2 separate regions of the Homo sapiens genome follow, and region 1 is linked to region 2. The links come from fine-mapping of genetic effects on gene expression. Tissue or cell type: blood mononuclear cells. Region 2 holds a variant in brackets; the other region holds the start of a gene. All regions are shown on one strand. Distances are from middle to middle. Region 1 holds the start of SUCO (SUN domain containing ossification factor). Region 2 overlaps SUCO (SUN domain containing ossification factor).

Region 1 (4,397 bases), 21 kb after region 2:
ACCCAATAGTTTCTTAAGCTAAAGTTTCTTAAAATGTTCACACTCTTAAACTCTCCACATCCATTTTCCTCACTAGGAGTTAAAAAACTTGACAGAAGTTTATTACTACTACTTTCAATACCAGGCCAACCGATTTGTTCCCTAACAGGGAAATTCATTAGCTCTTCACTAGAGCTAATGATTGAAGGTGAGAAAACATACTGAGGGTTAGCTTAATCAAAAGATAGCCAGAAATTCCCAAAAGAAATAGAAGCAGAGTTAACTTAAATTTACAAATGATTGTAAGAATCACATTCTATTGCTTGATTTCGTTTACACCATCCAATTAAAAAATTAAAAAAAGCCAGAGATACTGGTGTGTTTTTAAACTTGAATGAAAGTGTTCACCTTTTCCTTATTAGCCATTTCAGAAACTTTTGATGATGAATAACATGGTTTAAAGATGGGCAAGACCAAGAAGAAAGAGGAAAGAAAATACACAGTCTACAAATATAACTAGGCAGCCCCAGAAAGAGATGGAAATGAATACAAGCTTCAGTATCTACAAATTTAAATTTAAAATGAGGTGAGTGGATTTATCTCTTACAGGCACTTCTCCGTACCCAACACAGTAAGTAGAAAGGGGAGGATTTTATTAAAAACAGGAGACGGGTATTAAAAGGATTCAGAATGAAAGGTAATAAGTCAATTGTTTTTGTTCTCAAAAACTTCTATCATTCTTCCAATAAAAATCCCTCAGCCAGGCGAGTGTTTTCTCTTCCCCTTGTTTATGTATTATTTTATGTGAGCAACAACTCTACAATTTCAGTGCTTCTGGAATCCATAAGGCATCCATAAAAATGAAAATAGTGTTGGTGCTTTGCAGAAATAAGCAAAACAGGAAACTTAATTTCTATTTTAATATAACAAACAGCAAATCGCCTAGACTGAAGAAGCATCTTTTCAGTCATCAATTGTCACACATCTTTGAAGAAATTCCCTGGGAGGAAAGAATGGCTTTTCCAAGTACGGTGACAGCAGTCCCTCGACTTACAAGCTTTCTCTGCTCCTCAAAAAACTCCAGAAGTGCCTGGGATTAACAGAAACTCCGTAAAACTTAAGGAGTGCTTTAGGGACAAAGCACTCTTCCCGCCTTGAAAATACAGCATTTACCTTCCCGTCACTAAGGGGCATTACCAAAAACTACTACACACACTACATCTAAGACACCCTCTCCACCAAACCAATTGAAAAAGTGCTTCATAACACACATACACACACGCCCCCCAAGTTTCCAAAAACAGCGGCCCGAGTGTACTTGGGATCAAACGCTGTGCGAGAAATGTCCAGGAGAACTACTGCTTATACATTACTCTTACCTTCATGACCACTCACGTTTTAAAATCGCACGTCCGGAACGCATCACATCCGACGTGCTTTATCCCCTTACCACACTAAGAACGCAAAGACTGGCGGCAAATCGGAGCAACTTACTTACCATCAATCTGAACACCCACCCCAAACCCTGCACCGTCTCCAAGGGGTAGAGGAACTGAGTACAAAGGCACTTGGTGGTTCCCTCTACCTTGGCACCTCTCTCTCTCCCACTGAGTCTCTGTAAATTCCAAAATACACCATGAAAATCTCCGCACAGAGCACTACCAGACCAGTCAGATGGAGAGTCGAGAAGTAATCGGTTTGTCCCTTCCACGGGGGCCTTGGAAACCCGGACCCTAAAAGCCAAAATGACCAGGGGGTGTGACCTGGGCTGCTCCCTCCCATTTACTCCCCTCACGGGAACTCCCTTGTCGTCGCGGCTACTCACCAGACCAGAGAGCACAGAAAGAGGCAGGAGACCAGGGCCAAGGCCCGCCGGTGCTTCTTCATCTTCTCCTCCTTCTTCCCCCTGCCAGAAGGCGGCACATCCTCCCGGCAGCCGCCACTGCCGAGGCCAAGATGGAGGAGCCGGAGCAGGAGCGCGAGAATGTGACCGATAGTCCTAAGGGCTATGGCGCTGGCTGAGCGGCTCCTCAGTGGCTCGCGTCCTGGCAGCCCTCTCTGAGGGCCCCACAGAGGCGCGGACAGGGGCGCTTCACAGGACTCCGGGGACCGCCGCCGCTGCAGCCACCGGCTCGTCCACGCCCGCCTCCTGCAGCCGCCACTGCCGCCCCATATCCTCCCCGCCCGCCGGGGGCCTTGCTCCGTGAGGCCAGCGACCAACGGCCGCCGCGTACTCGCCTCTCAACAGCCAATCGCCGGCGGGGCCGCGACACCTCACACACCGCTGAGCTGGAAAGGGACGCGTCACCCAAGTCCCGCGGCGCCCGCACCCCCACCAGCCTCTGCGCAGGCCACGCCCCCTTCGACGTCGCAGGCGGAGAAGCCGGAGGCAGGAGACCACAAAGCGCAGGAGCAGATGCTCTCGCCGCTCCGCCCGCCCCAGGTCCCGCCCACTTGCTGGCTTGCGTTCAGAAAGCCGGGAGGAGCCCAGTGATCCTCAGCATTTCCCCTTACAGTGGACCGCCCTTCGTCCCTCGCGCGCTGAGTCCGCGCAAGGGCCTTTGGGAGTTGTAGTTTGCCTTCCAGAATTCGTTTTTCTCTTTCCCAGTCCCTCCTAGAATCCATGGTTTTGTTAGAGAAGTCTATAGTTTCGCTGCTCACCACGAGACTGATCAGCTTTGGAACTGTTGCACTGTTTTCCTCTTTTGAGCACAGTTCGTGGAATGGCCTAGAATGACGTGTGTGTTGTGAGGGAAGCTGCACCAAGCCCTTTCCCTGTGGCAATGGACTGCCCCATTGAGCTAGATGTTGATTGGTAGATAGAAAGGGGCGTGCCAAGAATCCTCTCATCTGATTGGTTGCAGCGGAAAACCTTTCGCTTTTTCTTCTCTTCAGCAAGAATTTCGCCGCTTGCCGGGTTCCTCACTTTAAGTGTGCTTCGTTGCTTTTCGTTCTGTTGGTTTCGAACTTTGGGTTCTCTGCGATGGAGTCGGAAGGGAGGAGTTGTCCCCATTAGAGGAGCACCCACAGACGCTCCAAGTCCTGGGGTTCACCTAAAGTGGGGAAGGCAGTCGCTTACACTCACCTAAGAAGAGCAAAAAGTGACCACTTCTCAATACTAAGTAACGGGGCAGCATGCCCATTCCAAGTGTTTACGCCGCTGAGGGGACGGAGGCTGCAATGGTCTGTGCCTTGGAACATGGCATAATGTTTAGTGTGAAAAATGTTTAAAGGACGGGTTACTTATTGTTCATGTGGCCGTAGGGAAAAAACCCTCAGTAAAATGCCCACCTAACGCCTAATTTTGAGCCGCGGAATTTCCTTATGAACCTTCTAAGTTGAATTGGATGTTAATTATAGTCCCAAAGAACTGAATGATTTGATCCGCTCTGTGATTCTTGGATATAAGTCAATTTGATGTTAGAGAAATTATACAAAGGGTGATAATTTTTGTTTTAAAGGAGTTCACCCTGAACTGCCTTTTCTGGCAGTAATTAGGTACAGTTCCACTTATCTGCTGATGCCACTCTTAGTATATGACAATAAAATCCTTTCATCTGTCACCTATTGCGGGAAGCAAGTATTTATCTCACCCAAAAACAGTATCAAATGATTAATATGCAAGTTTAAAAGAAAGTAGGGGCAATGAAAGGGTAGGGATAAATTGACATTCTTTACCATGTTGGACACTCTTTTCCTCTTACTCCAGGAACTTTTATTCAGGATAGGAAACAGCTGAGGTATCCCTCAGCTGATCCTCAGTGCATCACAGCCAAAGAAGTTATATTAGAATACGTGCTTATCTCAAATCTAGGAAGTTATCAAGTTACATCTCCTAACCCTCTCATCCCAAACTCACAAACCCATCCACTTATTTTCCACCAAGTCCCTGCAATGATTTTTTGAAACATGCAAGTACAAATAATTTTACTTTTTTCTTTCTCTTTCATTCCTTCCTTGACTGCCTGCCTGCCTTCCTCCCTTCCTTCCTTCCTTCTCCTGCAGTTGGAGCTTTATTAATACCCCCGTGGTAGGCTTTCCATTCACCTAATTATCATCCAATTATTAGCTTTTACTATTTCAATCTATAAATGTTCTTTTCTCTTTTTGCAGCTTCATTTCCATGGTTTCATGTTAAGGTTTAATCCTTCACTACTCCGAGCTTTTTCCATTTTTCTCTTGAGCAATTTTAATTTTCAACTATACTGTTGACTCCTAAACCTATATCCCATCCTCTTTTCAAGTAGTTGCTGGACATATTATTCTATCACTTCCAATTTTACCTGCACAAAATTGAACTCATTTTCCCCATAAATTAGCTTCTTCACGTGACTTTCTATATTTGTGTTGATTCTTTCCTATTCTAAGACTTCAGATGAAATAAATAGAAGTTCCATAGAGCTGACCTTTAAAGAACT
Region 2 (4,397 bases):
AGACATAAAAATGAATGAAATGACAGTGATACTTAATGGAAATGAATAACCTGACATTTGAGTTGATAATTATAGGGAATTCAATTCAAATAAGCACTGTTTCCTAAGTAGAACCTTACTTTGCTCAGACTATATAGAGATTTCATATCTGGGATCTATCAGCTTCATTGAGTTAGTTAGCTAAATAAACTTGTTATAAAATCATTACATTCAAAACACACAAACGCATGCACACATACGCACACAAAACACAAGCACTGTAATTTAGGTCTGCTATATAGCCTAAACTTCAAACTTGAGTATCAAGCTGCTTTATCTTTTAAGGAAATTTTTCTATCACTAACTAAGGAGATTCTTTTTTGTGTTTGTTTTTTGTAACAACTTACTCAAGCTTTGAGATTGGAGTGATTTCTGAGGTAGATGAGCTGGAAATATTTTCAACAGTTTCACTGTCCACAACTGCATTGGAAGACTCTTCATGCAAATCAACTGTAGGGAGTGTCTCCACCACCGGTGGACTTAACTTTTTTGACTCTGTATTCTGTTTAAAAAAACAAGTCAGCTAAATTAAATGTTGAGATTAATATAACATCTCTTTAGCAGAACGGGCATTTATGGAAAGCATTTCTGAAAAATGACAATATAAACAATGTTCACTAAAAAAAGTACTTTTATAAAAATCCTTTCTTCCAATATTACCGCCCTAAGGAATGCATTTCATATGAAAATACAGGCCCTAAGCATTTTTCATGGCATTTCATAAACTAGGAAAGCACTTTCTCCCTACCTATTTCCTACTTTGCATCAGGACCTACAGAGATTTCCCTCTTCTCTAATTGATGAATGATAGTAGCAACAAAGAAACCCTATGGACATGTACAAAACAGTACAATACATAGTTCTTGACCCTGAGCAGTTTAGGAAATAATGTGTATCAATAAGCAACGATATAAGATATGTTCAAGTAACACCATGAAGCAATAAATGATTCTTACTGCTCCTTCAGTCTTGAATGACCTGGGCCTTTCAGTCCTCCAAAACACAATGTGAAATCTACCTAACACCTGTTCATATTTGAAAACCTCTATCAGCACCTCCTCCTCCAAGATCAACCCTAAACAGAATTAACTACTCCCTTTCCCCTATGCCTCCAGTGTTCTCTGTACACTTTTATCACTGCATCTATAACAACTCAATTGCCATTATTCATGTCTCCCTCTCTTCTTCAACTATACCATAAATGTCCTCAGTAAGAACTATGTTCTCTTGATCCTCATATTCCCAGTGTCTAGCACAGTATCTAGCGCACAGTAGGTGTTTAAATGCTCAATAAATGAATATCAAGTGAGAGGTACTCATGTTCAGCTCAAGGAAAAAGAAACTAAGGACTATGATGAATTAGAAGAGCTAGGCATTAAAGAAAAGGAGGGCCAGTACAAGAGCACAAACAAACATCGAGGCACGCAGTCCGGAGAATATAAAGTATGATCATTTGGGGAATTATTTACACCGAGAAATTCACAAAAAAATATAAATAGTCATCTGCATTTTTATGATGGAGGCCTTGAGAAAATGACTACTGCCTTATTATCAAATACTATATTACCATATGAACATGTATTCAAAATTTAAAAATTAATGAGATACTTTACATGCTTTTTTTTTTTTTTTTGAGACAGAGTCTCACTCTGTTGCCCCAGGCTGGAGTGCAGTGGCATGATCTCGGCTCACTGCAACCTCCGCCTCCTGGGTTCAAGCAATTCTCCTGCCTCAGCCTCCTGAGTAGCTGAGACTATAGGCGTGCACCACCACACCTGGCTAATTTTTGTATTTTTGGTAGAGACAGGGTTTCACCATGTTGGCCAGGCTGGTCTCGAACTCCTGACCTCAGGTGATCCACTGTGCCCGGCCTACATGCTATTTTTTAATTAAGTCTTCAAAATCCAATGTGTATTTTACACTTACAGTAAATTTCAATTTGGACTAGCCGCATTTCAAGTGCTTAATGGCCACATGTGGCTAGTGGCTACTGTAATGAACAACATAGGTATACAAGACATGGTAAGCACTCGGAAGTATTTGAGCACAACTACATCATAATAAAAGTTTTATGAATAACGGTAGGAGTGTTCAGGATAGTCATACAATTGTAAGGGCTACAAGTATCATTTTTCTCTTACTCCTATGCATAAACCCTTGACAAATGTCTTCCAGAATCCAATAAAATGAAACTAATTCTATTGCTTTAGATAACTCAGTAAGTTATAAAATAGCCCTGGCTCTTGCAAAAAGTACAAGGTTAAAAAATAAAAAATGAAAAAAAAATTAGCCAAGGCTGTATTTTTTTAAAAAGAAAGAATTCTCCCTCATTCTGAGTTGAAATGTGTGTTCTTTTTTTAATATTCGAGATTTTAGTTTTTCCTTAGTCCTTCTGCCTACAGATAAAATATCCCCAGTACCTTCAGCCATTACTGATATTACATGGTTTCCAGATACCTCAGCATTCTGATCAGTTTATGGTGTATATATTCTAGTTTTTAGTATTTTTCATAAAGTCTGGTGCACAAAATAAACAATATTCAGAATGTAATATGAGAGAAAAAGGGAAAAAACATATTTTGATCTATTATCTATTCATACCCACAATAAGTGGAAATC[T/C]TGGTTATCAAAATACTCTGTGTTCTACATAAAAATACTCCCTTTTGTTCCAAGTGATTCAGGTTAGAAAAAAATTTCTTAACAACTGAAAATCTGAAGAGACAAGATACATCATAATGAACCAAAATAGAACCGAGGAAGAAATGAGGATTTATACTCAAACTTTTACTACCAAGAGACTAGTCACATTTATTATTATCTGTAATTTTACATGTTCTCAAAAGTAGTACTATTAGCAGGTAAGTAATCTTAAGTCCAGTTACAGAGTACCTCAAAGTGAAAAAACTAACAATACACACACAATATGGTGACCAAAGGTTTTCAATCTTGTAAAGTAGTTTGAAATGACATATTATTGAAAATCAAAGCGACATAGCTTACTTGTACATCCACAATAGAATCATCTTTTAATTTATGTTCTTTTGGAGAAATAGGTAAATTTGAACCTGATTTTCCCAATGATTCGGCATTGATAGGTCCCTCTCTTTCATCCTATATAACAACAACAACAAAAATCACCTGATAAAACTGTTTTACAAAACAGTTATAAAGCAATACGAAGATGGTTTTTTTCCATACTTTAAAACCAAAAAACTGCCTTGTTTATTTGACTCTAATTAATTTCATTTGTATACAAGATTATTGTCTATTTCCTTGAATCCCCTCATTGCTACAACATTTAAAATGTGCAATACACCAGTTCAAGAACTTCATTTGATTTCTTAATAAGCATTTTAGTCTTACCATCCAGCACCGTTGTAAGCACCTAGTAAAACTCCAATGAATACCTGACAAATGAAGATACATAAAGCTCTTTCTTTCATCTCTTTTTTGACATACATTCAAGTTAGAATTTCTAATACCTTTATGCCTTCTAGAGTGTAATTTTCATAAAAGTTCATATTCAATCTTTGTTTACCTGAGCCTATCTAGCTCATACTAGGTATCTAAATGTTTACTGAAAGAACATGCTTTCCCCCTTAATGCTTTGCTTAAATTCACTTTTATGACATTTGTTTGCAAAATGCTTCATCAAAAGGGGGATTAAATCAAAATCTTATATACTGTGTGGGTGAAAATATAAAATTATAGTTTTTTTTGAGATATGCGGCAAGTCTTCAAAATTTTAAATGCTCCATCCCAGAAATATATCCAACATAACTTAAATTTAAATAATCCACTCTAAATATGCCCAAAAAACCCTCAAGTATGTAATTGTAAGTATGTGTTGATACACACACCCACATGTGTGCACACATGGCAGGGAACAAAATGCAAAAGTTTGTCAATAAAGAACAACTGATAAATAATGTCTATATAACAAGATTAAAATGCAGCCATTCAGAATATATCAACATGAAAAGATGATATATGAGCTATCACTGGAGGGGAAGGGGGATGGCAATTTGTAATATATTTATATGATATTTTCATGGAAATAAAAATATTAATTTGTGGGCAAATATAAAGGTGTTATCTATACCCACAGAACAAGGTCCAAACGTTTTCACAAGAAATAGTAGACTGTTGTTCCTTTGGGGAAAGGAATGAGACATAAATAATAAATATTTTATACCAATATAAATTACTTCAGTAATTTTAAATAAATACACTGAAGTTAAAGGCAAAAGCCAAATCAAGTCAATACTCTCCATTTATCATTTAGAATGGTAAAATAATACATGTTTTAAGACCATGAGGTTTTTTGGAGTCTTTATATTTACTGCACCTAATTACAT

The links. PIP is the estimated chance that this variant, and not a neighbour inherited with it, causes the effect. A credible set is the group of variants that fine-mapping cannot tell apart.
Region 1: SUCO starts here. The variant in region 2 is the best candidate, but not a certain one, in a credible set for the expression of SUCO in blood mononuclear cells (TOPMed, PIP 0.76).

What each region holds. Positions count from the first base shown.
Region 1 is chr1:172,530,905-172,535,301 of GRCh38, reverse strand. It overlaps SUCO (SUN domain containing ossification factor), which reads right to left and starts at 2,152. Exons shown (of 24, transcript NM_014283.5): 1 at 1,805-2,152. The coding sequence starts at 1,866. RefSeq lists enhancers at 1,764-1,923, 2,534-2,783, 2,844-2,953 and a silencer at 2,044-2,213.
Region 2 is chr1:172,552,013-172,556,409 of GRCh38, reverse strand. SUCO (SUN domain containing ossification factor) reads right to left here. Exons shown (of 24, transcript NM_014283.5): 3 at 3,040-3,150; 4 at 387-541. Among named protein-coding and RNA genes, the nearest start is that of SUCO, 21 kb to the right of the region's middle. The variant T/C (reference allele first, on the strand shown) is at 2,659.